Linked DNA regions of Homo sapiens: region 1 is linked to region 2. Evidence: fine-mapped QTL for protein levels in blood plasma. Region 2 holds a variant in brackets. A gene starts in the other region. All regions are shown on their forward strands. Region 1 holds the start of C6orf58 (chromosome 6 open reading frame 58). Region 2 overlaps MRC1 (mannose receptor C-type 1).

The links. A credible set is the group of variants that fine-mapping cannot tell apart. PIP is the chance, under the fine-mapping model, that this variant and not a neighbour inherited with it causes the effect. The UK Biobank Pharma Proteomics Project read protein levels with antibody pairs (Olink). The fine-mapping took linkage between variants from a reference panel, not from the people measured, so its PIPs are less certain.
Region 1: C6orf58 starts here. The variant in region 2 is the best candidate, but not a certain one, in a credible set for the plasma level of the C6orf58 protein (UK Biobank, PIP 0.84).

Annotation. Positions count from the first base shown.
Region 1 is chr6:127,574,614-127,580,007 of GRCh38, forward strand. C6orf58 (chromosome 6 open reading frame 58) reads left to right here and starts at 2,561. Exons shown (of 6, transcript NM_001010905.3): 1 at 2,561-2,873; 2 at 4,073-4,159. The coding sequence starts at 2,573.
Region 2 is chr10:17,820,373-17,825,766 of GRCh38, forward strand. It overlaps MRC1 (mannose receptor C-type 1), which reads left to right. Exons shown (of 30, transcript NM_002438.4): 2 at 2,702-3,103. Among named protein-coding and RNA genes, the nearest start is that of MRC1, 14 kb to the left of the region's middle. The variant G/A (reference allele first, on the strand shown) is at 3,293.

The sequences.
Region 1 (5,394 bases), not on the chromosome of region 2:
AATTTGGCCACAGCTTTATCAAGTAGCTACATCTAGCAGTGAGACTAAATAATATAATCTCTATTCCAGGAAGACTCTGTTGTGCTAAGGATTAAGGGTGTTCTTACAAAGAAATAAGAGAAGAGTGAATATCACGTTATGTAACTATCAGTGCATGCCGTGATATGTTTGATGTTCATTTGAGGTTTATTTGTAAGCGTCTAACTTATTTCCTCTTCTATTAATAATTTTTGCATGAGAAGATCCAGATTCTACTATTGACATTATTTCTTTTATATCCTTAACAAATATCTTTCCATCAAGATGTGCTCTTACTTTTTTCCCACTGTATATGGGATTCCAATAACTACTCCACTAGTGGACATAGAAGCAATGTCTAGATCTAGTTCCAGTATAGCTCCTCTTTAAATTCTCATTTGTATTTTGGTCTTCATTTAAAATCTTTCTCTAATATAGTTCAATATTTCTGTTTTATTTAACCTGTAACTGGTCACACTATTACATCAATGACTGTGGTGTGTTACTTTAATTTTTGAGGGCTTATAATAATCTTCTAATATCTGTTATGGAAAGTTTCCTTTCACTATTATTATCCATTATTATTAGAGTTTTTGTATTTTCTTCATAATTTATTTTTTAGGCAAATTTTAGCCTCAGTCCTAAAAATCTTTCCAGAAAGCACATCTAAAAATCCTGTTAATATTTCTCATTTATTGTACAAATTTATAAATTAACATGTTGATAATGTTGAGTCTATTGAGAAACATTGTATGACTTTAAAACTGTTCAATTTTTTTGTAGTCTTAGAGATTTTTCCAAACAGATCTACCATAATTATACATTTATATGTTGGCCCTTTTGTTGACAATAAAATGAGGACTTTTCTTCCATTTTCACCTATTATATTTCCCAATTGCTTTTATATATAAAAGCTATTGATTTATATATAGTAATTTAGTTCTTAACCACTTTAGTAAATTTTTTCTTTGTAGTTACCCTTCTAGTTTATTCTCTTATGTTTTCTGAACACTGTCATATCATCTATAAGGGAAAGTACTAGCACATCTTCATTCTCAATTTTATACCTCTAATTTATTTATCTTTACTAACTTTATTGTTTGGTATCCTCAAAGAAAAGTTAAATGATTATAATGCTGGTGGTCATTTTTATTTTATTTCTGACCTTAAAGGAGTGCTCTTAAGATTTCTCCATTGAGAACAATCTGGCATTTGGTTTTAGAGTAACACATCTTACAGTACATATTCACGTATATATTCTTATAAACATTTAATATACTTTTAAAATTTCCAGAATGATTGCATTCTTGATCTATAGTAGCAATTCCTACCATTCCCTTTTATATTAATATATCTGGAAAATTTATTAATTATCAAATGGCTATTGGGTAAATAATATGACAGGAAAAAAGAGTGGAATCATGCTGTAGGATGTTTAATGTGGACCATGCCAGGAACAAGCAGTACCAGTGACCTACTATGAAGCATATGCATCTAATTGTGTAAATAATTGAGATTTTCAGATGCATTACCTATTAATAAGGCAAGAATTTTTACTATGTGTGAATAAAACTTCAATAACAGTGGTTGAAACAAGAGAGTGGGGTGTTTCTTGCTCAGGTAAAACTCAGATATAGGAATTCAAGGACATCTCATGGCTCCACAGCCCTCTGGGACTCAAGCCACCTCCAGCTTTGCATTCTGTCATCCCTAAGATAGTGCCTTGCGTTTAGGGGTCAGAATTGAATTTCAATCATCACATCAATAATCCAAGCCACAACATGGAGGAAGGGAAGAGGAATTGACATGTGCCCTTCATTTTAGGACATGTTCCAGAAATTGTGGATACTATTTCTATTTATGTCTCTGTGGTCCACACTTAGTCACATGGTTGCTTGTGTAAAGCAAATTGGAAATTTAGCCTTAATTCTGGGAGACCATATTCCCAGCTAAAATTCTACGATTCTTTTACTAATAAAGAATGAAAAATAGATATTAAGAATTAACTAGCAGGTTTTGTTCCAGCAGGCTGACTTTCATTATTGAATTGAGCTAATTAGATATTCTTTAAGCTTCTTTCTTGAAGCAGAACATTGTATTACAACTGGATCACACATATTTTTAGTACACATTTGAAGATTATTATAAATCCTAGTATTTCCATCTCCAGCTATTTAATATTTTCCATGAAATATGTTAAAGTATTTTTATTAGAGGGAAGCATTCTAAAGCCATTTGTGATGTATTTTGTAATCACAATGCAGCCTGGGAAACTTCTGGAAGGTTTTTGTTGATAAATAGTTTTATCTAATACATTATAAACAAGCCTAACCTTGTATTTAGGTTCTGACACAGTATTCTGACGCTGAAGAGTCTGGGAAATTTAATTGTCCTAAATGTTAGCTAATACATCAATTTCTTCTACATTTTCACCCTATCCAGGAAAACAAAAAAGCAAAGTGTTGATATGCTGTGAGGTTAGCAAATATCATGACTTCCTCTTCCATTCTCCAATAAAAGCCCTGCTACGATCGCAATCCCCAGCTCTGGCACAATGGCTTTTCTTCCTTCCTGGGTTTGTGTACTAGTTGGTTCCTTTTCTGCTTCCTTAGCAGGGACTTCCAATCTCTCAGAGACAGAGCCCCCTCTGTGGAAGGAGAGTCCTGGTCAGCTCAGTGACTACAGGGTGGAGAACAGCATGTACATTATTAATCCCTGGGTATACCTTGAGAGAATGGGGATGTATAAAATCATATTGAATCAGACAGCCAGGTATTTTGCAAAATTTGCACCAGATAATGAACAGAATATTTTATGGGGGTTGCCTCTGCAGTATGGCTGGCAATATAGGACAGGTAAGAATGACTCTTGTTTTCATTGTAATGATCTACCGATAGACCTATGAAGTATTTGGGAAATTGGACTCTGTATATACCCTACTATGTTTTTAAAAATTGATTCTTTATCTTGTTCTCTTTTCCCTTATAATCATTGTTTTTCTACCTATCCTTCTCCTTATCCACAAATCCTTCTTTTGTGGGTTGTGTGTTATTATTAGAAGCTTCAATGAGGCATAAGACATAGTTATCAACTGTGAAAAGACATCACATCTCATCTATTGAGCATTTCACAAATATTTGTTGAAGTTCTACTAAGTGCCACACTCCTTTCTAAGCAATGAGATGAACAAAACAGTCAAGGGGATATACAAAGTGATGTCCAATTAGTTTGAATTTCTTGAAGTTCTAATTATGATATGAGGTTATAAAGAAGCATCACATTGTTCATGAAGATCTTTCTCTGTAAAATGTTTGCTTCCTCTTGGAAATAAGGTACCTTACAGTGTATAGACAGAAGTTACATTTTGGGATAAAATATACATGAATTGAAAGATACTTTTGTTCTGGTTGATAGAAGCTCATGAGAAAGAGTGGTGCCTGTTGCCCACTCCCTGCTGATGACACAGCCAATAAAGAAATTATTGTGTGTGAGAGAGAGGTTAAGAAAAGAGCAATTTCATTTGGAAGAAAAACAATGATTATTTTCTAATATTTACATAATGCATATTACAGGTGAAACACCTTTGGTGCTTTTTCTCACCTCACATCACAACCTTATAATGTAGTTAATATTATTATCCCCATGTCATAGATGAGAAAACTAAGGCATTAGAGGTTATTTAGATAAAGTCAAGCTAGTAAGTGGTAGAGCAGGGGTTTGTTTTGACTCTCGACCATCTCTTTTCATCTGTATGCATATTGCTTCATAGTTTCGATTAGAAGGTAGAGGAGGAAATAGAAGAGAGTATCCTTACAAAAGTAAATAATATTTAGGACCTATAACTCAAAAGTAGAAAACTGTGTTGTTAAGGAAAAGGAAAGAAATTAGAAACTAAAAAATAAAAGATAAAAAAAGAATGATGGGAATACAAACACATATCATTCAGAAATAAATGCTTTTGTATCTACAAACAAAATCTATGTGGTTAAGCAATAGTTACAGCCAGTTTCAAAATGCGTATAATAAATACGACTGTGCATCCTCTCTCCTCCAGGCAGATTAGCTGATCCAACCCGAAGGACAAACTGTGGCTATGAATCTGGAGATCATATGTGCATCTCTGTGGACAGTTGGTGGGCTGGTATGTTCGTTTAAGTGGCAAAATAGATATTAACCTTTCCTGAAAGAAAGCATTCAAACCTAAAATCTTAGGGACAGAGACAGAACTAAAATAATCCTGTTCCTATTTTAAAAAGGAATCTATTTCACCGTGTACCTTATGGCCTTTAGGTCACTTTAAGGGATTTAAGAGCCACAATGTCAATAATGATTCCTTAGGACATATCCAGCTTTTCACAGAAGGACGAAAACAAGGTTCTGCAAAAGCAGTGGCCTCTGAGGGGCCAGCTCTGGTAGTTAGGTGGGAGGTCCAACTGATGACAAAGAATCTCCAGAATAAGGAACGATGAGAAGTGAGACATCAAGACAAATGATGCTTTTTCATTTTGCTCAGACCAGATGTGGTTAATATTGAAACCCATAAACATGCCAGAGATTAATACCTACTGCAATTCATTATACCAATCAGTAATCTCAGGCTTTAATCATATACTTAATGCTAAAATAACCAGAAGGTATTTTCTAATTCTTTCATTTAATTTTATGCTTTAGTAATGAAAACAATTTATACCACAAATCCTTAGAGGTATTTCTCAATAGTTAGAAACACGACCACATTAAATTTCACTTTTTCAGGGCAACACACATCATATGTATCCTTAAGCATTTTCCACTTACTACCCCTAGTTCTTTTAAAAGACTCGCGAATAGTAGTGGCCACAGATCTAGAATTCAGAGTTTGTTATTCTTAGATTGGTTTAGTAGTTTGGAGGATTAGCCTGCTACACTGTGGCATAGGATTCCATTCACAAATGCCTGTCTAGGATGAAATATTCTACATCACTGATTTCTAGTGGAAATCAGTATAAGCCTAATATCCAACTAATGAAAATGTCTGAGTCTGCTGGAATAGGTGATATATAGGTAAAATTTTTTAAAATGTGAAAATAGTCATGTTTGATTGTCAGTCTAATGGTCTATTGTCAAAACTTACCCAAAATTTGTGCTTTAAAGGATAAAATAAGATAAAAATTTAGTGATATCATGATTACAAATTAAACTTATGTGTATAAAATAGAAAACATTCATTTACCAAAGCTATAATCATGTTAAAATATTTTAGAGAAAAATACAAGTACAATTCACAATAAAACCGTAATGAGAGGTTTTGTACCATTTTGTGGAAAAGTTGATAGCTTTCTTCCATTCTTACTTAATGCTTTGAAAAAATGAATATTATGATATCCATTAAAATTA
Region 2 (5,394 bases):
TTGGATGTTACTCATTAAATGCTGTCTTAGAGTGAAATTAAGATGAACTGCAGATAAAAATTAGGCATATAAAAGTCAAGTATAAAAACATCTGAAGGAGGAACACTGTTCATGCATAAAGATTTTTGAACGCCTTCTCTTAAAAGACTGGTTGCCAATCAGTTAATTGACTGAATTTGACCAGTTAATAAGACTGTTGTTTGACAATACAGTGAAAATGGCCAAAGTATAAGGTGGAAGATATATTTACTATTATTAACAATGAGGTATTACTAAGCAAAGCTATCTGAAAAGTGGAAGATAAGTCCAGCTTTAAAAAAAACAACAGTAGGTAGAATAACACAAACAAATTACATTAAATTTAGAGGCTAGTATAGTGGAGTTTACATATATCTATGGCAAAAGTTTCAGAGTTCATTACATTTTGAGATTAGAGAAGATAATTTACCTTTGCATAAAGTAAATGATCATAGTCACTGTTTTTTAAAAAACCGTTTTTATTTTCCTATTTCCTGTGTTCCATTGTGAGCAAAGCCCTATATTATCAAAATTCTCATTTTATTGCCAAGGTAGAAAATTACTCATTTTGTCCCACTAGGGCACGAGCAGTTACAAAATGAGATCAAGTGTGGAAGGAAGCTCAGCTAGACAGGAGGAGATTGGGATAGGTATTGCATGTTCTGTGAACAGTTGTCAAGTGCAGAGAAGCCAGCAGAGGCAGGTGTCTGGATCCAGGCTTTACTGAGTTCCAATTCCAAGAAATCAAAGCAGCATGAATGAGTAACCCAGCAGAGGAGCCCAGGCAGAGGTTTGAAGTTGCAGAGAACTAGGAACCCAGGTGGCATAGAGGCAGCGAGAGTAAGTCTTACTCACTCTAAGTAAGACAGCATTTAATGCGTAACATCCAAACTTCTCTTTCTCATTCTTGGCACCATCATCCCCCAAGATCCATGAGCTAAAAACCTAGGAATCTTCCTGGATTTTCAGCTTGTTTTTGCATTCTAAGGCAATAGTGAAATCTACCACCTTTACCCAAAAATATACTGCAGTGGTTAATTTTATGTGTCAACATGGCTGGGTCTTGGTACCCAGATATTTGATCAAGCACCAGACTGGATGTTGCTATAAAGGTTTTGTTTTTTGTTTGTTTTTTTTTAAAGATGAGATGATCATTTCAAGGTAGGATAGAGGCAGGAGATCTGGAACTAGTGTGGACAAGAGCATACAGAGGAGCGTGTCAGGAGAAAATAATCTTTTGAGGCAAAAATTTATTATAAGCTTTAAGCTTATGGGTCTAGAACTGATCTCAGAGTGTAAGTGGTGCTAACCTCCCTGGGGTGTTCAGAACAGGATATAGAATACAGCTTGCAAAAATGCTTTGGAAACACTGAAGGACGCTACTAGTGGTATGATTCTAACTTTGTTTGATTTCGCTGGAATTATTTAATTAAAAATAATGAGCTCATTTAGTCAGAACCTCAAACATCTGCACTACTACCAGCTCATTTTGAAAGAACAAGGTGAATGCATGGAATTTAGGAAAATTTCACAAGATGTGTTTAATTTATGTTTATGTCACAAAATCAAAGCACTCAGTTACTTTCATTTGTTTATTCCTTAACAATAAAGAAAAAAGAGAAAGCTTTACATGAACTCAATTTTGATTTAATTAAAGGAAAAAAAAATGCTTACCAGATCCTTTTTTCCTCTTTTGCAAGAGGAAGTTCCGTTTTGCCAGCTAGCAGCTATGTGCTGTTAAGTATAAGCCATCCTTACATATTTACTTGAATCACCAGTTCCAAATTACAAATATAAAAAATGTTATTTTTAAAGTTATTCTCATAAAATATTCTCTCCAATGATATAAAACTTACATTGATTTTTCCTTTATTGCAAACTTCACTATTAAATTATTAACAAATAATACCAAAATGTGTTGAGATGTGTCACACTACAAAATCCTATTCTAGTCTGGGCGAGGTGGCTCCCACTTGTAATCCTAGTACTTTGAGAGGCTGAAGTGGGAAGATTGCTTGAAGCCAGGAGTTCAAGACCAGCTTGGGCAACACAGTGACTCTATCTCTACAAAAAATAAAAAATGAGTTGGTTATGGTGGTACAAGCCTGTAGTCCCAGCTACTTGGGAGGCTGAGGCAGGAAGATCACTTGAGCCCAGAAGTTGGAAGCTACAGTGAGCCATGATTGCACCACTGCACTCCAGCCTGAGCAACAGAGTGAGACCTTGTCCTTTAAAAACAACAAACAAACACACACCTTTTCTAGGACATACATGCATTTAATTTTACAGTTTATTGTATTCGTATTACCCAAATTTTCTTTTCCCAGTTGATATTATTCCTTTCTGTTTTCTGCCTTGTATGTTCCACTCCTGGACAATCCTTGGGCATGTAAGGTGGGACTTTGCATGAGACTCCTCACAGTGAACTAGGACATTTTGAGAACATCCAGCTGAGGGCTGGTACCTTGGCAGGCCCTCAGTCCAGGTTCTCCTTCCAGCTTCAGGGATCCTCGAAGAGAGCTGGCCCAGGCACAGTCATCAGTACCTCTTTTCCTGCAATCTTAAGTCTTTAGGGAAATGGAAGAGTTGGAAACTTTTGACCTAAAAGATCGTCCTTGTTACATGAATCCACTTAGCCATGCTTGCTTTCTTCTTCTTTTCCTGCTTCTTTCTTTTTAAACAGACACCAGGCAATTTTTAATCTATAATGAAGATCACAAGCGCTGCGTGGATGCAGTGAGTCCCAGTGCCGTCCAAACCGCAGCTTGCAACCAGGATGCCGAATCACAGAAATTCCGATGGGTGTCCGAATCTCAGATTATGAGTGTTGCATTTAAATTATGCCTGGGAGTGCCATCAAAAACGGACTGGGTTGCTATCACTCTCTATGCCTGTGACTCAAAAAGTGAATTTCAGAAATGGGAGTGCAAAAATGACACACTTTTGGGGATCAAAGGAGAAGATTTATTTTTTAACTACGGCAACAGACAAGAAAAGAATATTATGCTCTACAAGGGATCGGGTTTATGGAGCAGGTGGAAGATCTATGGAACCACAGACAATCTGTGCTCCAGAGGTTATGAAGGTAAGATGCCTGGAATTTTCACCTTCGTGTTGAAATTTTCTCGTCTTCTTAGTTGGAACCTGATTCAAGAAAATCATCATGTTCTTGTTTGGCGTGTACTAGAAATATCAATTGATCAGCATCTTTGTGTTTTCAACTATTCTGTAGGACTATTCTGAGGACATGATGGTGAATAAATGTGATTAAAAA[G/A]TCCTGAATGATACTTCAGCTATTTTTACTTAATGGGAAGACATTCTTTTAACTTTCTCTGAGGTTTTATTTTTTTAACTATGGGCTACATTTTTCAGAAAATCGTTTTCATTGTAGTCTTTGACCCAAAGCCTCCTAGTTAACATTATAAAGTTGTAGTGATAAATACATTTAGCCAAATATGTCTTTTCCTTTAAGTTATCCCTGGAAAAATGATCCATAGAACATTCTTTCCCAATTTAGATTGCCTAAGATGAAATCTCGGCAGATCCCTTGGCGACATGGGATTCTAAATGTTACTGATTTATTTTGTCAGGTTATGGGTATTTAGAGACTGTAATAATCAGAAGATTATAAAATCTCTAGGATTAGCTTGTAAATTAATATGCAGTCTATTTAGTTAGCCATCAGAGAAGGTGATACCTCCAATGCGGTGGGAGGAATCCTCTTATATGTAGTTGGTTTCTTGACCTCTTGAAGGTTAAATAAAATCAGAGTATTTAGTTCTTTCTTATATTGACCAAATTTCACTATCTGGTGGCTGCACAGAAAACAAAACAAAAATACAACACAACTTGAAGGCTTGTTACAAAGGCTGGTCTCTTGAGTCAGATGATGTTATAATCACATTTTAGGTTTGGATACTTCGTTATTGTGAAGTGTTATCTAGAACAACCTCAAGGTCAGAGAAAGAGCCTACTTTTGGGGACAAGAGATAACCTGTTTCCAAAATTGCTATGTTACGGGGCTACTAAGATTGGTTGAACCTAGCTTATCTCAGCTAAGACTGAGCATAGCAATTTAGTTCTTTATAAGGCAATAATTTGTGAGCTTTCCATTTTCCATCTAGGCACAGAAGAAGGGAGAGTAGGAATTGAAGTACGGTGAGAGAAGGGCTCAGAAATAAGTTATTTTGAAGCATTTTTCAAACATAATATAGGTTTAGAAGTGATATGAGGGGCAAGCTAAGTGAACACAAAAAAAACCTTTCAGGAGAAACTCAACAGAAAATTACAAGGAAGGAGAAGGGTGAATTAAACTTGACGGAGTCAAATTCCACAGGTGGGACAATTGTGCTAATTGAGGAGTTTAACTTGAGGAAGATTGGCGCTAAGAAATCGGATTTTTATTTTATTTTAAAATATAATATTATGCTTCCCTCACCCCCTACCCTTTCTGTTTCCCCATTGGTTTTGAGACAAATATACATAGGGTTTGGGCTAATAGTTCTCAAACTTTAATATGCTTAAGAATCACTTGGAAAGTTTGTTAAAAATATAGATCCTAAGCTCCCCCTTCTACTAGATTCTTAATATACATATTGGGAAAAACCCCAGGAATCTATTCAATGATTTCTATGAAGACCCGGGTGATTCTGTGGCATAGGGTCTATTGACTACATTTTGCATACTCCCCAAAGATCTCCCAGCACTTAAGATGATCCTGCTCCTCAGTTCTAGCTCTGCAGAGTGACCACGAGATTGGGAACACACATTAGAACTGAAGACAGTGTCGAGAGGATGTATTGTAGGGTCTCTGTATCTCTGATGAGAACATGGGGGAGGGGTAGAATGGTGGAACTTTTTGAAAATAGGAATTATTTTAGAAGAATGGAACCAGAATTGTAGACTTAGATGGATTTGATGGTTATTTGGAAGTTCAGACTCCAAGAAGAAGACAAATTGACTGCAGTTACATGATGTGTCAGTGGGGTAGTTGGGGTTCTTTTGGCCTCATCAGTGTTGGGTGTATAGAATGGCTCAGTAGTTATTAAACAGAGTTAGTTAATAAAGCTGGCAGGCGTGGTGGCTCACGCCTGTAATCCCAGCACCTTGGGAGGCTAAGGCAAGAGGATCACTTGATTTCGGGAGTTCAAGACCAGTTTGGGCAACCTAGTGAGACCTAAACAAAATGTAAAAATAAGCTTGGTACTGTGGTGTTCACCTGTAGTCCGAGGTATTCAGGAGGCTGAGGTGGGAGCATTACTTGAGCCCAGGTAATTGAGGCTGCAGTGAGCCATCATTGCGCCACCTACTGCAGCCTGTGTGACAGAGTGAGATCCTGTCTCAAAAATAAAATAAGTAAATAAAGCTATATGTCAT